Linked DNA regions of Homo sapiens: region 2 is linked to region 1. Evidence: fine-mapped expression QTL. A gene starts in region 1. The other region holds a variant in brackets. All regions are shown on one strand. Distances are from middle to middle.

What was found. PIP is the estimated chance that this variant, and not a neighbour inherited with it, causes the effect. A credible set is the group of variants that fine-mapping cannot tell apart.
Region 2: its variant is the best candidate, but not a certain one, in a credible set for the expression of SIN3B in whole blood (INTERVAL, PIP 0.63).

What each region holds. Positions count from the first base shown.
Region 1 is chr19:16,826,922-16,832,294 of GRCh38, reverse strand. SIN3B (SIN3 transcription regulator family member B) reads right to left here and starts at 2,897. Exons shown (of 19, transcript NM_001297595.2): 1 at 2,755-2,897; 2 at 2,398-2,504; 3 at 648-801. The coding sequence starts at 2,874. RefSeq lists a silencer at 2,750-2,929 and an enhancer at 2,670-3,171.
Region 2 is chr19:16,958,190-16,963,562 of GRCh38, reverse strand. All of the region lies in intron 18 of CPAMD8 (C3 and PZP like alpha-2-macroglobulin domain containing 8), which reads left to right. Among named protein-coding and RNA genes, the nearest start is that of CPAMD8, 66 kb to the left of the region's middle. RefSeq lists enhancers at 1,665-2,222, 2,223-2,782. The variant G/T (reference allele first, on the strand shown) is at 2,037.

The DNA of each region.
Region 1 (5,373 bases):
ACCTGGGAGGCGGAGGTTGCACTGAGCTGAGATTGCGCCACTGCACTCCAGCCTGGGTGACAGAGCCAGACTCCGTCTCCAAAAAAAAAAAAAAAAAAAAAAAGAGGGCCAGCACCTATCACCCAAGAAAAAAGGGACCAAAGCAAAGCCAGGAGTCCCAGCTGAGCTAATGATCCTATCAACAATTAAATGAAACACAGCCAACATAAACGTGGCTACTCACACACCATCTCGACCACTTTATTTTGTAGGTGGTACTGAGAGTGATCAGAGGCAGACGAGGACATGCTTAAATACAAGGGCAAGCCTGCCTGGTATGCTCGCTGGGAAAGCCTCAAGCCAAGACCTCAGCAACTGCTGAGGTGGTTATTTAGACTTCACACAAAATTCTGCGTTAGGAGGATACCTCCCTGACATCCACTCTTGATTTAAATCTTCCAAACAGATCAATTTGGGAGGCAGAGGCTGCTTGTGTAGGTGTTTCCATATCTATTTTGATTTGTGCTAGAAGCAATGAGCACGTCTAGAAAAAGAACAGATCTTAAGTGGCTTTCTAGCAATGATACAGGAGAGACACGTGGCCCAACCTGAGTAGCAAGACATACTCGGTGAAGGCTGAGATCACCCGAACCACTGTAGTGGCATACCTGGCTTGTCAGAGGCGACTGTATGTTTAACTTGCCATTCTTGGGAATGTCTATTCTATATCCGAGGGGAAGAAAAGCGTTGAATCCAACAATGAGGTCAGGGTGCTCGTGGAAGAGCTGCGAGACACGTCTGATGACTCCAGGAGTATCGATGCTAGAAGAAACAACGGAAGTGGGCAAAAGGGTCTTGGGAAATAAATGAAAAATATAATCTATTCCCCACTCCCTTGATACTGCCACATAAAAACCTTCTCAACAGACAACAAAGGAACCTAAAATGTGACCCACCAGGCGCAGTGGCTCATGCCTGTAATCCCAGCACTTTAGGAGGCCGAGGCAGGCAGATCACCTGAGGTCAAGAGTTCGAGACCAGACTGGTCAACATGGTGAAACCCTGTCTGTACTAAAAATACAAAAACGAACTTGGAGTGGTGGTGCGTGCCTGCAGTCCCAGCTACTCAGGAGGCAGAGGCACAAGAATCACTTGCACCCGGGAGGCGGAGGCTGCAGTGAGCCCAGATCACACCACTGCACTCCAGCCTGGGCGACAGCACGAGAATCCATCTCAAAAAAAAAAAAAAAAGTGCCCCCATGTGATAGCATCTGTACACCATGACCTATCTCCTGACTGGCTAGGCCTGAGCTCCCTGTTCCCTCCTGGTGAGAACCAGAGAATACTGACATCGCTCAGCTCCCCTAAAACACTCCAAGAATGGGTACTCGGTTCTGAAAATGTCAGGAGAGCCAACCGCAAGGCCTGGACTCCAAGAAATGGCAGGAGGCCAAAGTCCTCTAAGCAATGTGAAAACTTCCCTCATTTTGTATCAGATAGAGATGACTATGACACAGGTTTCCATCTGAGCAAACAATTGCAATGCATAAATACCAATGGTACTGCCAAGAATGGGAAAGGTGTAAGAAAAATAGGAGGGGAGAGATGGGGTCTCCCTTCTGGCTGCATTGCAGCCCAGCCCTTAGCACTGGGCTCCCGGAAGGAAACCAGGCCAGCCCCACCATGTTTCCTAAGAGGGGGCAGCAGTATGGTAAGCATGTGACTTCCAAGAATCTGAGTCAGAGGGTCTGAGTTCTAGTGACACCTCTGCCACTTAGGTGGGTCCCTTACCCACTCCAAACCTCAGTGAGTCTCCTATAAAAACAAGGGCATGATCCCAGGGTTTCCCATCTATCTGTAATCTTCCTTGATTCTGGGCCTGCAAAATCATCTCATGTGTTTTAAACGTTTTCTGTGTGCCAGCTCCCTTACTAAGCATTTTATGCGTCTTACTTCCAAGCAGGCCTGGGACCACAGTGAGCCCAGAGAAGCATCTTGAGGACAAGATTAAAGGGGAAGAGGGTGCCAAAAATTTCAATCATCAAGACAATAACATTTTACAGCGCTTGAAAATAAAAATCAAAATGGGTCCCACCAAATCTTTCATGAACAAAACTAATATAAAAATCAACATATTAAATCAAGGCAGGATTTGACTCTATGAGTGTGCACGGCCTCGCCCTCCCTGCCTCCCCCCAGATCCCTGTCCTGCTTCCAGGAATCCCCACAAAGCTCCACAAGGTGGGTACTACCCATTTCCATTTTTGTTACGAGAAGGAGCTAGGGCTCTGAGAGATTGGACAACCTGCGCAAGGTCACCCGGCTAAGGGGGCAGGCTGGAGAGGGGAGGTCTCACCCCGCTAGGCCCGATTCCGGCCCAGGGGGGTCCCCTGAGGTGGAGAGGGGCCCCGCTGGTACCTCTGGCTTTTGAACTCCTTCATGATCTCCAGGAAGCCGTTGTAGGTGGCAGGGTCGCTGCCAAAGCGGATCTTCACCTGGTCCAGATAGGTGAGGGCGTCTTCTACCTGCAGAGAGGGGGAGGGTCCCGGTGGGCCCTGGCCGCGGAACGAGGGGACGAGGGGCCGGGGTCCCTGAGGGGAAGGGGATGGGCTGGGCTTTCGGAGGGCCGAGGTGAGAGGTGAGGGGTGAGGGGTCCGGGGCAGTGCAGAGGGGAGGCCGAGGTGGGGCTGGGGCCGGGCGGGGCCTGGGTGAGGGGCGCCCGCCCGCGGGGTCCAGAAGATGGGTTCCCCGAGGGAGGGCGGGGACGCCACTCACGTGCACCGGCAGCTTCTCGTGGCCTGCGGAGCCCGAGCGACCCCAGCGGGCGCCGCTCAGCCCCCGGCCCGCGGGGCCGCCGGCACCGCTGCCACCGCTGCCACCGCCAGCGTGCGCCATGTCCGAAGTCGGAGCTGCGCCCCGCCCCGCCCCCGCCCGAGGTCCTGCCGCGCATGCGCAGCCTCCGCCTTTGGAGGCGGGGTTTGATGACGTTGAGGGGCGGTGCTCTTTGAGGGACTCTTCTGAAGACCTTCTCCTTAAGATTGGTATCATAATTAATGATTTATATAGCAGGGGTAGGCGAGCCAAGACCCGCCGCCTACTTTGTCCGGCCCCGCAAGCTCAGAATTATTTTTACATGTTTACATAGCCGGGGGAAAAATCCAAAGAAGAATAGTCTATGACCTGTGAAAAGTTTGTGAAATTCACATTTGAGGGTCCCTGAATAAAGTTTTATTAGCACACAGACACGCCCACGCGTTTACCTGGCTTCTCTGCCTGCTTTCGCCTTACAACAGAGTAGGTAGTTGCTAAAGATCCTACAGATCTGCAGACCCTGAAGTATTTACGATCTGGCCTTTTATGGAAAAAGTTTGTTGGCCCCTGCTTTATAGAGTTGACGGGACGATGAGGTATGAGCCCCCAGCGCCCTAATATAGGGCCTTGCGTGGTGAATTTTTGCTAAATGGCCTTTAAGTTAGTCCTACTCCTCCCATCTTCACTTCCCTATCCTTGGCCCCGTCACTTCCCATCTGGACCAGTTTAGGAGCCTCCTAACTCTGGTACTTTCTTTTTTTTTTTTTTTTTTTTTTTTTTTTTTTGAGACAGAGTCTCGCTCTGTCGCCCAGGCTGGAGTGCAGTGGCGCGATTTCCGCTCACTGCAAGCTCCGCCTCCCGAGTTCACACCATTCTCCTGCCTCAGCCTCCTGAGTAGCTGGGACTACAGGCGCCCGCCACTGCGCCCTGCTAATTTTTTGTACTTTTAGTGCCACCCCACCTGGCTCTAACTCTGGTACTTTCTCAGCCCTGATACTATCAAGAACTCTAGGCTGGGGATGGTGGCTCACGCCTGTAATCCCAGCACTTTGGGAGGCCGAGGCGGACGGATCACGAGGTCAGGAGATAGAGACCATCCTGGCTAACACGGTGCAACCCCGTCTCTACTAAAAATACAAAAAATTAGCCGGGCCTTGAAAAAAAGAAAAAGAAAATGAAAAAATTGGCTGGGCGCCGTGGCTCACGCCTGTAATCCCAGCACTTTGGGACGCCGAGGCGGGCAGATCACCTGAGGTCTGGAGTTGGAGATTAGCCTGACCAACATGGAGAAACCCCGTCTCTACTAAAAATACAAAATTAGCCGGGCTTTGTGGCGCATGCCTGTAATCCCAGCTACTCGGGAGGCTGAGGCAAGAGAATTGCTTGAACCCGGGAGGCGGAGGTTGCAGTGAGCCAAGATCACGCCATTGCACTCCAGCCTGGGCAACAAGAGCAAAAACTCTGTCTCAAAAAATTAATTAATTAATTAATTAAATAATAAAATAAAATGAAAAAATTAGCTGGGCGTGGTGGTGCACACGTTTAGTCCCAGCTACTCGGGAGGCTGAGGCAGGATTGCTCATGCCCAAGAGTTCAAGGCTGCAGTGAGCCATGATCTTGCCACTGCACACCCCAGCCTGGGAAGCATAGCAGTGCTTTTTTTTTTTTTTTTTTTTAAAGAGCATCTCATCTCTTAAAAAAAAAAAAACAGAAAAACAAAAAACTCCACTTTTTCCACCACTCCTTCCAAACCTCCAAGGTCTTCCTATTTCTAATGAGATGAAATCTAAGCACCTACATTGCAGGCTGTCAGAATTGGTCCTTAGGAACCTTTTCCTGCAGGATTTTCCAAGCAAACTGCCTGCCTCTGTGCAGAACTTCACACAATTGCCTGACCAACCTGGCTGCTTCCTGGTCCCAAGCATTGGCACTCACCATTTCCTTTGCCAGAAGTACTGTCATGCCTCTTTGTTATTCAGAAAACACCTATACATCCTTCTAAACGCAGCCCAAATATCCCTTTCCCTCAGGAAGTGTTCCCAGTCCCCTTCTATGTCTCCCCTCAGTCCCTTGTATTTCATATTTGTTTTGTGTCCGTCTCTAATACAAATCCCTGACACAGTCTCTCAGTCAGCATTCATCAAATAAGTGAACGTTCAATTAATGACCAAGTGCTTTCTCTTTTTATAAGTGAAGAGGTGCAGGAAAGTTGAGAGTAAATTGGCATCGAGTGCATCATTTACCAGGCACCTTGCTAAGTGTCAGGAATAGAATGGTAAAAAGGAACGCAAATTTGGCCGTTAAGAGCTTTTAGTCTCTCAGGATAGACAGGAATCTAGTAATCACACAAATGTAAAGTTTCACATGTAACAAATACTTTAAAGAGAAGGTATACATGTAACAGTTCCTAAATTTCTGTTGCTATGACTGTGTAACAAATGAGCCCTTGACAATCCCAGCACTTTGGGAGGCCAAGGTGGGGGCATGCATTGAGGCCAGGAGTTTGAGACCAGCCCAGGCAACATAGCAAGATCCCATCTGTACAAAAACATTAAAAAGAAAGAAAAATGGAGAGAAAAAATA
Region 2 (5,373 bases), 130 kb before region 1:
TGTAGGTCTCTAAGGACTTGCTTTATGAATCTGGGTGCTCCTGTATTGCATGCATATACATTTAGGATAGTTAGCTCTTCTTGTTGAATTGATTCCTTTACCATTATGTAATGGCCTTCTTTGTCTCTTTTGATCTTTGTTGGTTTAAAGTCTGTTTTATCAGAGACTAGGATTGCAACCCCTGCCTTTTTTTGCTTTCCATTTGCTTGGTAGATCTTCCTCCATCCATTTATTTTGAGACTATGTGTGTCTCTGCACATGAGATGGGTCTCCTGAATACAGCACAATAATGGGTCTTGACTCTTTATCCAATTTGCCAGTCTGTGTCTTTTAATTGGGGCATTTAGCCCATTTACATTTAAGGTTAATATTGTTATGTGTGAATTTGATCCTGTCATTATGATATTAGCTGGTTATTTTGCCCATTAATTGATGCAGTTTCTTCATAGCATCAACGGTCTTTACAATCTGGCATATTTTTGCAGTGGCTGGTACTGGTTGTTCCTTTCTATGTTTAGTGCTTCCTTCAGGAGCTCTTGAAAGGCAGGCCTGGTGGTGACAAAATCTCTCAGCATTTGCTTGTCTGTAAAGGATTTTATTTCTCCTTCACTTATGAAGCTTAGTTTGGCCGGATATGAAATTCTGGATTGAGAATTCTTTTCTTTAAGAATGTTGAATATTGGCCCCCACTCTCTTCTGGCTTGTAGGGTTTCTGCCAAGAGATCTGCTGTTAGTCTGATGGGCTTCCCTTTGTGGTTAACCCGACCTTTCTCTCTGGCTGCTCTTAACATTTTTTCCTTCATTTCAACTTTGGTGAATCTGACAATTATGTGTCTTGGGGTTGCTCTTCCTGAGGAATATCTTTGTGGTGTTCTCTTTATTTCCTGAATTTGAATGTTGGCCTGCCTTGCTAGGTTGGGGAAGTTCTCCTGGATAATATCCTGCAGAGTGTTTTCCAACTTGGTTCCATTCTCCCCATCACTTTCAGGTACACCAATCAGACGTAGATTTGGTCTTTTCACATAGTCCCATATTTCTTGGAGACTTTGTTCATTTCTTTTTACTCTTTTTTCTCTAACCTTGTCTTTTTGCTTTATTTCATTAATTTAATCTTCAATCACTGATACCCTTTCTTCCACTTGATCGAATCGGCTATTGAAACTTGTGCCTGCGTCACAAAGTTCTCGTGCCATGGTTTTCAGCTCCATCAGGTCATTTAAGTTCTTCTCTATGCTGTTTATTCTAGTTAGCCATTCGTCTAACCTTTATTCAAGGTTTTTAGCTTCCTTGCGATGGGTTTGAACGTGCTCCTTTAGCTCAGAGAAGTTTGTTATTACCAACCTTCTGAAGCCTACTTCTGTCAATTTGTCAAAGTCATTCTCCGTCCAGCTTTGTTCCATTGCTGGCAAGGAGCTACTATCCTTTGGAGGAGAAGAGGCGCGCAGGTTTTTAGAATTATCAGCTTTTCTGCTCTTGTATCTCCCCATCTTTGTGGTTTTATCTACCTTTGGTCTTTGATGCTGGTAACCTACAGATGGGGCTTTGGTGTAGATGTCCTTTTTGTTGATGTTGATGCTATTCCTTTCTGTTTGTTAATTTTCCTTCTAACGTCAGGTCTCTCAGCTGCAGGTCTGTTGGAGTTTGGTGGAGGTCCACTCTAGACCCTGTCTGCCTGCGTATCACCAGTGGAGGCTGCAGAACAGCAAATATTGCAGAACAGCAAATATTGCTGCCTGATCCTTCCTCTGGAAGCTTCGTCTCAGAGGGGTACCCGCCTATATGAGGTGTTTGTCGGCCCCTCCTGGGAGGTGTCTCCCAGTTAGGCTACATGGGGGTCAGGGACCCACTTGAGGAGGCAGTCTGTCCGTTCTCAGAGCTGAAACGCCATGCTGGGAGAATGACTGCTGTCTTCAGAGCTGTCAGACAGGGACGTTTAAGTCTGCAGAAACTGTCTGCTGCCTTTTGTTCAGCCATGCCCTGCTCACAGAGGTGGAGTCTATAGAGGCAGTAGGCCTTGCTGAGCTGCAGTGGGCTCC[G/T]CCCAGTTTAAGCTTCCCAGCCACTTTGTTTACTTACTCCAGCCTCAGCAATGGTGGGCACCCCTCCCCCAACCAGGCTGCCACGTCGCAGTTCGATCTCAGACTGCTGTGCTAGCAGTGAGCAAGGCTCTGCGGGCGTGGGACCCGCCCAGCCAGGCATGGGAGAGAATCTCCTGGTCTGCTGGTTGCTAAGACCATGGGAAAAGCTCAGTATTTGGGCGAGAGTGTCCTGTTTTTCCAGGTACAGTCTATCCCGGCTTCCCTTGGCTAGGAAAGGGAAATCCCCTGACCCCTTGTGCTTCCCGGGTAAGGCGACACCCCGCCCTACTGCGGCTCATCCTTCATGGGCTGTACCCACTGTCCAACCAGTCCCAATGAGATGAACCAGGTACCTCAGTTGGAAATGCAGAAATCACCCATCTTCCGTGTCAATCACACTGGGAGCTACAGACTGGAGCTGTTCCTATTTGGCCATCTTGGAATAGCCCCAACATATTTTTTTAACCATGTAAATGTGGTTAACATTTTTTTCAAGCAGTAGAAGAGGATATATAATGAAATTTAAGTCTCCTTCCCACCCTCAGACCCTCCATTCCCTTCTTCAGAAGGGAAAGCTGAATAATTTTTTTTTTTTGAGGAGGAGTCTCACTCTGTTGCCCATGCTGGAGTGCAGTGATGGGATCTCAGCTCACTGCCTTCCATGTTCAAGTGATACTCCTGTCTCAGCCTCCTGAGTAGCTGGGATTACAGGCCTGCACCACCAAACCCGGCTAACTTTTGTATTTTTAGTAGAGAGGGGGTTTCACCATGTTGGCCAGGCTGGTCTTGAACTCCTGACCTCCAGTGATCCACCCACCTCAGTCTCCCGAAGTGCTGGGATTACAGGTGTGAGCCACTGTGCCCAGTCTGAATAATTTCTTAGATATTCTTCTGTGCATATGTAGGATTAAAAAAAAAAAGAATAGAAGAATACCATAATGTCATTTTGTACATTTCTTTTGAAAGTTAACAACAAGTCTTGGAAATCATTCCATATCAGTAAATGCATGTTTACCTCACTCTTTTTTTTTTTTACAAATATATAATAGTCCACCAATGAATATACTATCATTTGATTTTCCAGTCCTCCTAATGATGGAGATTTGGGCTATTTGCTAATTTTCCTAGTGCCACGATGAACCACTCCATCTCTCTGTGTTTGCACACACGTCTGCGGGTGTTTCCGGGGTCTGCTCCTAGGAGAGGTGTTGATGGTTGAAAGGATAGGAGCATTTTTATTTTTGCCAAATTTTGAGAAAGCCTTTTTTTTTTTTTTGAGAAAGGAGAAGGAGCAGCCTTTGAGGAGGGTGAACTGTGAGGCTTCTGAGGCTCAAACAAGAATGCATGAAGGCACTCCTTAGGAAACAGAGGATGGGTGAGCAGGAGGTGGAGAGTTCAGTGTGATGATGAAGATGAACGTGGTAAAACCCAGGGAGGGAAATTAGCAAAGGGAGGGATATAGGGTGGCCCCTGCAGGCCTTTATCCCTTCTGCATCCAGGAGAGGAGGCACGACTGTTTAAAGATGGACTCTGCCAAGCCTTTGATACCTTGCTTCTTCTATTCTTAAGTAGAATGTTAACGCTGCCAGGTAAAAGAGTTAACAAGTTACATCCTTGAGCAGACACTTTTCAAAGAAGATACACATGCAGGCCGGGCGTGGTGGCTTATGCCTGTAATACCACCACTTTGAGAGGCTGAGGTGGGTGGATCACAAGGTCAGGAGTTCGAGACCAGCCTGGCCAATATGGTGAAACCCCATCTCTACTAAAAATACAAAAATTAGCCGGACATGGTGGTGGACGCCTGTAATCCCAGCTACTCAGGAGGCTGAGGCAGGAGAATTGCTCGAACCTGGGAGGCGGAGGCTGCAGTGAACCGAGATTGTGCCATTGCACTCCAGTCTGGGCAACAGAGAGAGACTCCATCTCGAAAAAAAAAAAAGAAAATATACGTGCAGCCAACAAGCATATGAAAAAAACCTCAATGTCACTGAACTAGAGAAATGCAAATCAGGCCAGGCACAGTGGCCCACACCTGTAATCCCAGCACTTTGGGAGGCCGAGGCGGGTGGATCACTTGATGTCGGGAGTTTGAGACCAGCGTGGTCAACATGACAAAACCCCATCTCTACTAAAAATACAAAAATTAGCCGGGCGTGGTGGCACACCTGCAATTCCAGGTGTAATTCAGGAGGCTGAGGCATGAGAATCACTTGAACCTGGGAGGTGGAGGTTGCAGTGAGCAGAGATTGCACCACTGCACTCCAGCCTGGGTGACAGAGCAAGACTCCATCTCAAAAAAAAAAAAAAAGGGAAATGCAAATCAAAACCACAATGAGATGCCATCTCATGCCAGTCAGAATGGCCATTATTAAAGAGTCAACAAATAAGCTGAGTGTGGTGGCTCATGCCTGTAATTCCAGAACTTTGGGAGGCCGAGGCAGGTGGATCACCTGAGGTCAGGATTTTGAGACCAGCCTGACCAACATGGTGAAACTGCGTCTCTACTAAAAATACAAAATTAGCTGGGTGTAGTGGCAGGCGCCTGTAATCCTAGCTACTCGGGAGGCTGAGGCTGGAGAATCGTTTGAACCTGGGAGGCAGATGTTGCAGTGAGCTGAGATTGTGCCATTGCACTCCAGCCTGGGTGACAAGAAGGAAACTCCATCTCAAAAAAAAAAAAGAAAAAAAAAGTAAAAAAATAACAGATGTTGGTGAGGTAGTGGAGAAAAGGGGATGCTATGCATAGTTGATGGGAGTGTAAATTAGTTCAACCATTGTGGAAAGCAGTGTGGTGATTGCTCAAAGAACTAAAAACAGTACTACCATTTGAGCCAGCAATCCCATTACTGAGTATATACTCAAAGGAATATAAATCATTCTACCATAAAGACCCATGCACACAAATGTTCACTGCAGCACTATTTACAATAGCAAAGACCTGGAATCAACCTAAATGCTCATCAATGACAGATTGGATAAATAAAATGTGGTACAGAAATACCATGGAATACTATGCAGCCATAAAAAAGAACAAAATCATGTCTTTTGTGGAAACATGGATGGAGCTGGAGCCCATTATCCTTAGCAAACTAATGCAGGAACAGAAAACCAAATACTGCATGTTCTCACTTATAAGTGGAAGCTAAATGATGAGAACACATGGAAACAAAAGGGGGAACAGACACAGGTCTACTTGAGGATGGGGGATGGGAAGACAGAGAGGATCAGAAATAATAACTATTGGGCATAGGCTTAGTATCTGGGTGATGAAATAATCTGTACAACAAACCCCCAT